Homo sapiens: one gene and its partner. The protein of the gene in region 1 binds, or shares a complex with, the protein of each later gene. Each region holds a gene or a part of one and is shown on either strand. Other genes may lie near its edges.

The links.
Region 2: USH1C (region 1) and CDHR5 share a complex: the UniProt entries of both Homo sapiens proteins name them as parts of the IMAC/intermicrovillar adhesion complex.

What each region holds. Positions count from the first base shown.
Region 1 is NC_000011.10:17,534,417-17,537,916, forward strand, and holds part of USH1C (harmonin), read right to left. Parts: intron 1-3,500. UniProt on the Homo sapiens protein: Anchoring/scaffolding protein that is a part of the functional network formed by USH1C, USH1G, CDH23 and MYO7A that mediates mechanotransduction in cochlear hair cells. Required for normal development and maintenance of cochlear hair cell bundles.
Region 2 is NC_000011.10:622,156-626,307, reverse strand, and holds the start of CDHR5 (cadherin-related family member 5 isoform 1 precursor), read left to right. Parts: upstream 1-1,352; 5' UTR 1,353-1,405; coding exon 1,406-1,490; intron 1,491-1,575; coding exon 1,576-1,751; intron 1,752-2,044; coding exon 2,045-2,095; intron 2,096-4,152. UniProt on the Homo sapiens protein: Intermicrovillar adhesion molecule that forms, via its extracellular domain, calcium-dependent heterophilic complexes with CDHR2 on adjacent microvilli. Thereby, controls the packing of microvilli at the apical membrane of epithelial cells.

The DNA of each region.
Region 1 (3,500 bases):
GATCTGACAGTACCTCCTTCCCTATAAAATCAGACTGAGCATTTCATTAAAGGTGAGAATAACTTGGGAGGCTTGACTCACAGCTTGGGCTTTAGTTGCTACAGAAGTTCAGCCCACCTGCTCCAAAAGGGCACCCTTGCTTTCTCCCTACCTCAGTGCAAGGAGTTCCCAGCTAGGGCTGGGTGCGGTGGCTCACGCCTATAATCCCAGCACTTTGGGAGGCCGAGGTGGGCAGATCACCTGAGATCAGGAGTTTGAGACCAGCCTCGCTAACATGGCAAAACCCTGTCTCTATTAAAATACAAAAATTAGCTGGGCGTAGTGGTATGCCCCTGTAATCCCAGCTACTTAGGAGGCTGAGGCAGGAGAATCACTTGAACTCGGGAGGCGGAGGTTGCAGTGAGCCAAGATTGCACCACTGCACTCCAGGCTGGGTGACAGAGCGAGACTCCATCTCAAAAAAAAAAAAAAAAAAAGGAGCTCCCAGATGACAGGAGATGGAAGCATCTGCTTGAGTGGGTGGTACTAAATCTTAGGGTGGGAGGCTGGCCTTTCGCACCCACCACCTCTGAAAGCTCATCTCTCCACATAGCCTGGATTCTCTCACCCCCTCTGCTCAGGCCTGTGGGGCAGGGGTGCCTCCCTGAGACAGGCCTGGGCTGCCCACACTGGGCTGTGATGGAGGAGTATGAACTCTCCTAGCAGCAGGGGCGAGAAATATCTTTATAAATTAGATATGTTGCTTGCTTGCTCAGTAGTTTCTTGTACCCCAAACCAAACCTAAATCCAAACTCCTTACTTTGACTTATCAAAGCCCAATCTCCTCTCCTACCAGTCTTCCTGGCTACAAAGTCCTCCTTTCAGTTCTTCCCACAGGCCGAACGCTCTCCAGCCTCAGGGCCTTGGCGTATGCTTGTTCCCTCTGCTTGGACTGCTTCCCCCACTTCCCTGCCTGGCCACCTCCTTTCCAGAGAGGTCTTCCCTGCTCACCTACCCAGACAGAACCGACTCCTGCACCCCGGAGATGTTTCAATTCCTTCACAGATCGACTACAATTTGTAATTTAAGGTTTGTTTTCTCTGTGAATTGTTTTCTCTGTCACCTTCGCTGGACAGAAAAATCCCATGAGGGGAAAGATGAGATCTATTTTGTTCTAAATTTCTCGTGCCCAACACATAATAAGCTCTCAATAAAGAAGTATTGAATGAATTTATCTGCCTGCCTCCTGGTATGCCCACATGGTTCAGGTGGGAGGGAGGTAACCATGGGAACAGAAGGGGAAGGGAAATGATGTTGTCCCCATAATGCCCCATGCGGTGGCACCAGGAGCTTTTCATGGGCTTTATTCCATTTGTTTATCACATTGGGGCAATATTCTCACATAATGCTGCAGCTGAGGAAACTGAGGATCAGAGAGGTTAAGTCAACTCACCCAGTGTCCCACAGCTAATAAGCAGAGCTAGGATATGAACCTAAGTCTGACTCCAAAGCCCATGTTCTTTCTGCTACGCCACGATGACCATTGATTGTGACTCAGGCCTGGCAGGGGAAAATAACTCCCAATGTCCCTTTAGGCCAAAATTTCCAACCCTTTGCTTTCAAGAACTCCTTTCTTATCTCTAAGCCCCATCTCTCTCCTCTGCACTGTTAAGAAAACACTTTTGGCTTGGTCTATAATGAGTGAGAAAATGGGACATCTTTTGAATGACTCTTTGAACCCAAGTGTTGTACTTTCTAAGGGGAGCATAAAAATCACGTCTGCTTTGGCTGAAGAGAGGACACCCTGACTAAAGACTTCTAGCCTAGTTATAACCCTGGGTGGTGACACAAGAAAGAAGATGGGACAGAGAATCTCTTATTGACTGAGGCCTTAGGACTGAAGTTCCCTCTTATCCCTCTTTGCAGAAATGTATCTTGCTGTAGCATTAGATTTCAGTAGTGAGGAACTGTCCTCCTTAGACCATGTTTATTGTGCATTAGGTGGAAAACTGAGGTAGAAGAGTAAGGTAACTTGCAATGTTAGGGTCTAGGGTTCTGTTTTTCTCCCTTCCCTGGGCCAAGCACAGATCACTTGGAGATGGTCTTGGTGGAAAGGAGCCTGTCCCTGAAGGTCCCGGGCTCCTGGCCCTTGTCAGCAGCCCTCCAGCACTGACCACTGCTCCCAGAGGTCTCATCCTACCTGTCTCCTGAGACAGCTGCAGAGCTCAGCTCTTCGGCCTCATGTCCACCCACTGTCACCGGTTAGGTCACTCAAACCCTGTCCTCAGTTCTGCCATTGCTCGCTTCACCACATCCCAAGTGGGACTCAGCTGCAGTGGAACAGATCCTTCCCCTGACACACTGGAATCTCCTTGTCCTCACTCAGAACATTCCATCTACCGCCATGTCTGACTTGTCTATTTAAACAATTCTCTATAGACCATACCAGCTAACAGGGAAAATAGATCTGGTTTGTGTAGAATGCTCTTTAAATATGAATCTAAGTGATAGATCATCAAAAACTTGAAAACTGGTTACACAGGAGATCCTGCAAAGGGAGGGATCATTCTCACCCAGAAATATCTCAGAAAGACTCAGAAAGAACAGCACTGCTTTGTTCTCTGACCACACCTGAGTGAAAACACACACTCACACCTCACTCTTCAGGCATTAAAAGGCACCAGGAAAGAAAGCTGAGAAAGATGGAAGTTTCTCTAAAGCCTGAACGTGCAGTAACAATACCACCATCACTTAAATTACTTTTTCTTTGTAGTCTTCCCTGTGGTCCAAATCAAATTACTTTTCCAATATTAAAAAATTATATAGTTTCCTCTCTTCTGGAATTCTGCCTAGCACTAGCCCGAGGATCAGTTTTGGGGAGCCCCTGCTCTAGGGTGCTTTGTACCATTGTCCCAGTACCCTGTACTCAGGTACATACGAAGCACTAGGCACGCAGTAAATCTCCCACACTCCTTTCTTCCCTTCCTTCCAAACATGTTCTTCATTTCCCTGTGGAACCCAGAACCATGTCATGCACACAAGCGCACGGTGCCCAGTGGCGTCCGTTGATGAAACGTGAACTCTATTTGCTCTAGTCTAGAGCCTTCTTTCTGACCTGTTGGCCCAGGCCTGGGTCACCACCTTTCCACTGGTCCTCAGCACATATATTCTGGGTCTGCCTCCCCTTAGTTCACTTCCAATTCATCACAAAAAAGTAGGTCCCAGCGACTCCATCTATCCACAATGGACAGCTTTCCTCCTCTCATCTGAATCCTGCCTTCATTTCAGATGAGGCCCAAGTCCCCTCTTCTAGAGTCTGGAGCCTCCTCACCTGCCTCCCAGCCTGAGTCTCTTTCTGTCTGGCTCACTTATCCCAGCCAGCCTCTCCCTACTGACTGTCCACTGCCTGAGGAACTTTACGTGTATTATCTTTAATATCCTAACAACCCTCTGAGGTGAACGTTATCATCCCCACTTTACAGATGAGGAAACAGAGGCTCAGAGAAGTGACAGAATTGAGA
Region 2 (4,152 bases), about 17 Mb from region 1:
GCTGGGAGTTGTCTGTGTCCACTCAGTGTAATCGAGGCAACCCCTGTGTAGCGGGGCTGAGGGATGGATGGAGGCCCATCCACCCAGGAGGGACTGACCACACCCAGCTGCCCTTTACACCTGCAGGCACGGCGGCCCCTCATCCTTATCTCTGGCATCAGGGCCACCTCCTGTACCTCGACTAAGTACTGCAGGGCCCCGCCCCACCCCTTGTCATCCATTAGGAAACATTCTGGGGCTCGGGGGATCCCGGACACCCTCTCAGCTCCTGCCCGGGGGCCCATGTGGTCAGTGTTTCTGTAAGGGGTAGTGGGGAGGGTGTGAAGGGGCCAGGGGGGCTCAGGCGGGCAGGAAGAGGGGAGGGTGGAGGTGTCACCTGGGGTGCCAGGAATCCACTCTGGCGTGAGGACTCCGGACCCTCTGTCTCGTGTGGCCTCGGACCAGTGGCTTGACCCCTCAGAGCCTGTGGAGCACGGAGCGTGCAGGGCTTGAAGGCGACCATGAGGGCACCGTGCAGGGTTAGGACACTGAGCCCAGCCCCAGCCATGAGAGGCCAGAAGCTTCGGCGCACAGGCCTGGAGGAGGAGAACTCCACCTACCCCTCACGACAGCCACTTCCTCGCCCCGACCCTACCCAGTGGCCTCTCCCTAGAGCTGGGGGCTTCTGGGGGGCCAATGAAAAGAGCAGGGCAAGTGTCGAGTCTCACCTCACCCCCTCTGTCGGGCACCAGGGCCCCCCAGGAACTCCCAGCTGCCCCTCACAGCCCCGCCTTAGCCTCAGTCACTAAGGCCCTGTCCAGCCCCGCCCTGAGAAGCCGACTTGTCTCTGGGGCAGGCAGGGGTGTCCCCAGGACACAGTGAGGAGAGCCTTTTCCTTCAGAACCTGCTGTCAGGCAGGGAGGGAGGTGCTCCCTGGGGAACACCCGGGTTCTGAGCCTCAAGGGGTGGCCTTAGGAACTTTGCCTGAGGGAGATCTTAGGGGAGGAGCCAAGCCAGGGCAGCCTGGGCTAGGGAGGCAGGTTCCAGACACCCCGACACCAAGGGCCGAGCCCCCGCCCCCAGCCCCCAGCTTCTCTCCCACACCCTAGCCCTGCCCCTGCCCTGCCCCTACCCCCACGGCACCCATGAGCCGCTCTCCAGTCCCTTCTGCCCTGTGCCTCGGTGCCTGTGACCTGAGCCCCCTGGTTGACCCCTGCACTCAGTCCAACTTGGGCCAAACGACTGCCCCTCCTTCTGGCAGTGGGCTGGACCAGCCGGCCAGCGGGAGCCCCCTTGGCAGAAGCCGGTCGTAAAGGATCATAAACTGGGCGGCGTCTGGCTGGGGCGAAGGTCGCTGAGGTAGGAACTGCGCCAGTCCTAGACGCCAGACCCGCTCAGACCCTCCTGCCAGGTGACAGCCGCCAAGATGGGGTCTTGGGCCCTGCTGTGGCCTCCCCTGCTGTTCACCGGGCTGCTCGTCCGACCCCCGGGGACCATGGCCCAGGCCCAGTGTATGTGCGGGCAGGGGTAGGTGGGGCACGGGCGGCGGGGAGCCAGGGGCTGGGAGGCACTGATCCCTCCTCTGCAACCTTACAGACTGCTCTGTGAACAAGGACATCTTTGAAGTAGAGGAGAACACAAATGTCACCGAGCCGCTGGTGGACATCCACGTCCCGGAGGGCCAGGAGGTGACCCTCGGAGCCTTGTCCACCCCCTTTGCATTTCGGATCCAGGGAAACCAGCTGTTTCTCAACGTGACTCCTGATTACGAGGTGTGGGCGGCAGGCGGGCGGGATATGGGGGTCCCGGGAGAAGGGCACCTGCATCCTCAGGCCACACCTCCCTTGGGGGCCTAGGAGTTCTATGCCTGCGGGCATCCACTGACACCCATGCTTGGTGGTGCCTGCCCTAGAAGGCTGGGCCATTTCGGGATGAAGCTGCCTGGGCCCACACCCTCAGCACTGACCACTGATGATGGGGACCCTGGGCCAGCGCCTGCCCACTTGGCCTCAGTCTCCCCACCTGTGGGGCAGGACGGTGACTGCAGACCTGTCTACATCCACAGGAGAAGTCACTGCTTGAGGCTCAGCTGCTGTGTCAGAGCGGAGGCACATTGGTGAGTCCCCGCCCCGCTCTCCCCGCCCCACCCGGCCACCTCTGCTGGGCTCTGCCCTGCCGGTCCAGGACCAGTCTTTGATGACGTCAGCTAGGGTGTGGTTTCAAATTCCACCCCCCCGAGGGTGATGCCCACATTTCCTCCAGTCCAGACTCTGCCCTGAGCTGTGGAGTCCCCGTCACTGACCCCTTGTCCAGCAGACACCCCATCCAGTGTGCCCAAGACTCCCACCCACTCCCTCAACCATCCACAAGGGAGGCACCTTTATCCTGCCAGTCACGGGGACCACCTTGGTTCCCACTCGCCCTCCCTCCCCACGTGTCCCCCACAGCCCCCCACTGGTAAATCTGTTGGCTGTGCCCCAGCTCGACCCAGAAATCCAGAGTCTGTCCACCTCCAGTCCCATCAGGGCCGGGACACCAGCACTCATTTTGGGAAACTTCCAGCTGGCCCACCGGCTTCCCTGTTGCCCTTTGCTGGCCCCAGTCCACTCCACGTGGCAGAACAGCCCCTGTGGATGTTGTAAACCAAGGCTGCCCAGCCCACCCCAGCCCTCCACGGCTCCTTTCTCACCGAGTCAAACCCAGACATACTGTGCAGAGGCTCCACTGCAGCCTCAGGGCTCCCGCCAGGCACGCCCCTCCCTCACCGGCTCAGGACTGCAGTCTTCAGAGAAATCCCAACCACCCTATGCCCTGTTGCATCCCAGCCCCGCTCCCCCAACATCCTGCTTCTTGACCGGCGGCATTTTTTTCGGCTTTATTAAGGAAAATTGCAGAATCCTGAGGCCAGCACAGGCCCCCTCACCTACCAGCACACAGCAGGCTCTGTGCCCTCCATGCACCACGGCACGTCACCTGCACATATCTTGGGATATGTCTCTGAAAGAGAGAGACTCTTTTTTGAGACAGAGTCTCACTCTGTCACCCAGGCTGGCGTGCAGTGGAGCGATCTCGGCTCACTGCAACTTCCGCCTCCCGGGTCCAAGCGATTCTCCTGCCTCAGCCTCTTGAGTAGCTGGGATTACAAGCATGCGCCACCACGGCCGGCTAATTTTTGTATTTTTAGTAGCGACGGGGTTTCTCCATGTTGGTCAGGCTGGTCTCAAACTCCTGACCTCAGGTGATCTGCCCGCCTCGGCCTCCCAAAGTGCTGGGATTACAGGTGTGAGCCACCGTGCCCGGCTGACAATCCAGTTTCTTCACAAATAAATCTCCAGGAAAAAAGATGGGAGAAAGGGAAAGGTACAGATGAACAGAAACTCAGGAGAATTACCAACCAGGTCCATAATGTGGGCCCTGATTCAAACAAACAATTGTTAAAAAACCCTTCAGAGACCACGGGGAATGTGGCATCCTGGACATTTGAGGTAGAAAGTGACCGCTTTTCCCAGGTGTGACAACGACATTGTGGTTATGTTCTAAAAAGAAGAGTCCTGGCTGGGCGCCGTGGCTCACACCTGGAATCCCAGCACTTTGGGAGGCCGAGGCGGGTAGATCACCTGAGGTCAAGAGTTCGAGACCAATGTGGCCAAAATGGTGAAACCCCGTCTCTACTAAAAATACAAAAATTAGCTGGGCATGGTGGCAGGCACCTGTAATCCCAGCACTTTGGGAGGCCGAGGTGGGCAGAGGCCGAGGCAGGAGAATCGCTTGAACCTGGGAGGCAGAGGTTGCAGTGAGCCGAGATCACACCACTGTACTCCAGCCTGGGTGACGACAGAGCGAGACTGTATCCAAAAAAACCCAAAAACCAAAAAACAAAAACAAAAACCAAAAAAAAAAAAAAACAGAGAAAAGAAAATGGATTGTCTTTCCTCACCTGAGATTCTGCTGGCTGCATCCCCAAGTACCTGCATTATTTTTCTGTGGAGCACCTGCCACCTCCTGGCTTTATAAAGTCCTTTTTGTCTGTTGTTATAAGTCCTGCCAGGACAGGCACCACCAGGCAGAGATTTGTCTCTTGTGATCTCTGAATCCCAACGCCTAGAGCTGTGCAGCCCCTGTAGCCCCCCAACAACTGAATGAGCGAGTGGACGGATGGCCGTCGAGGGGTGC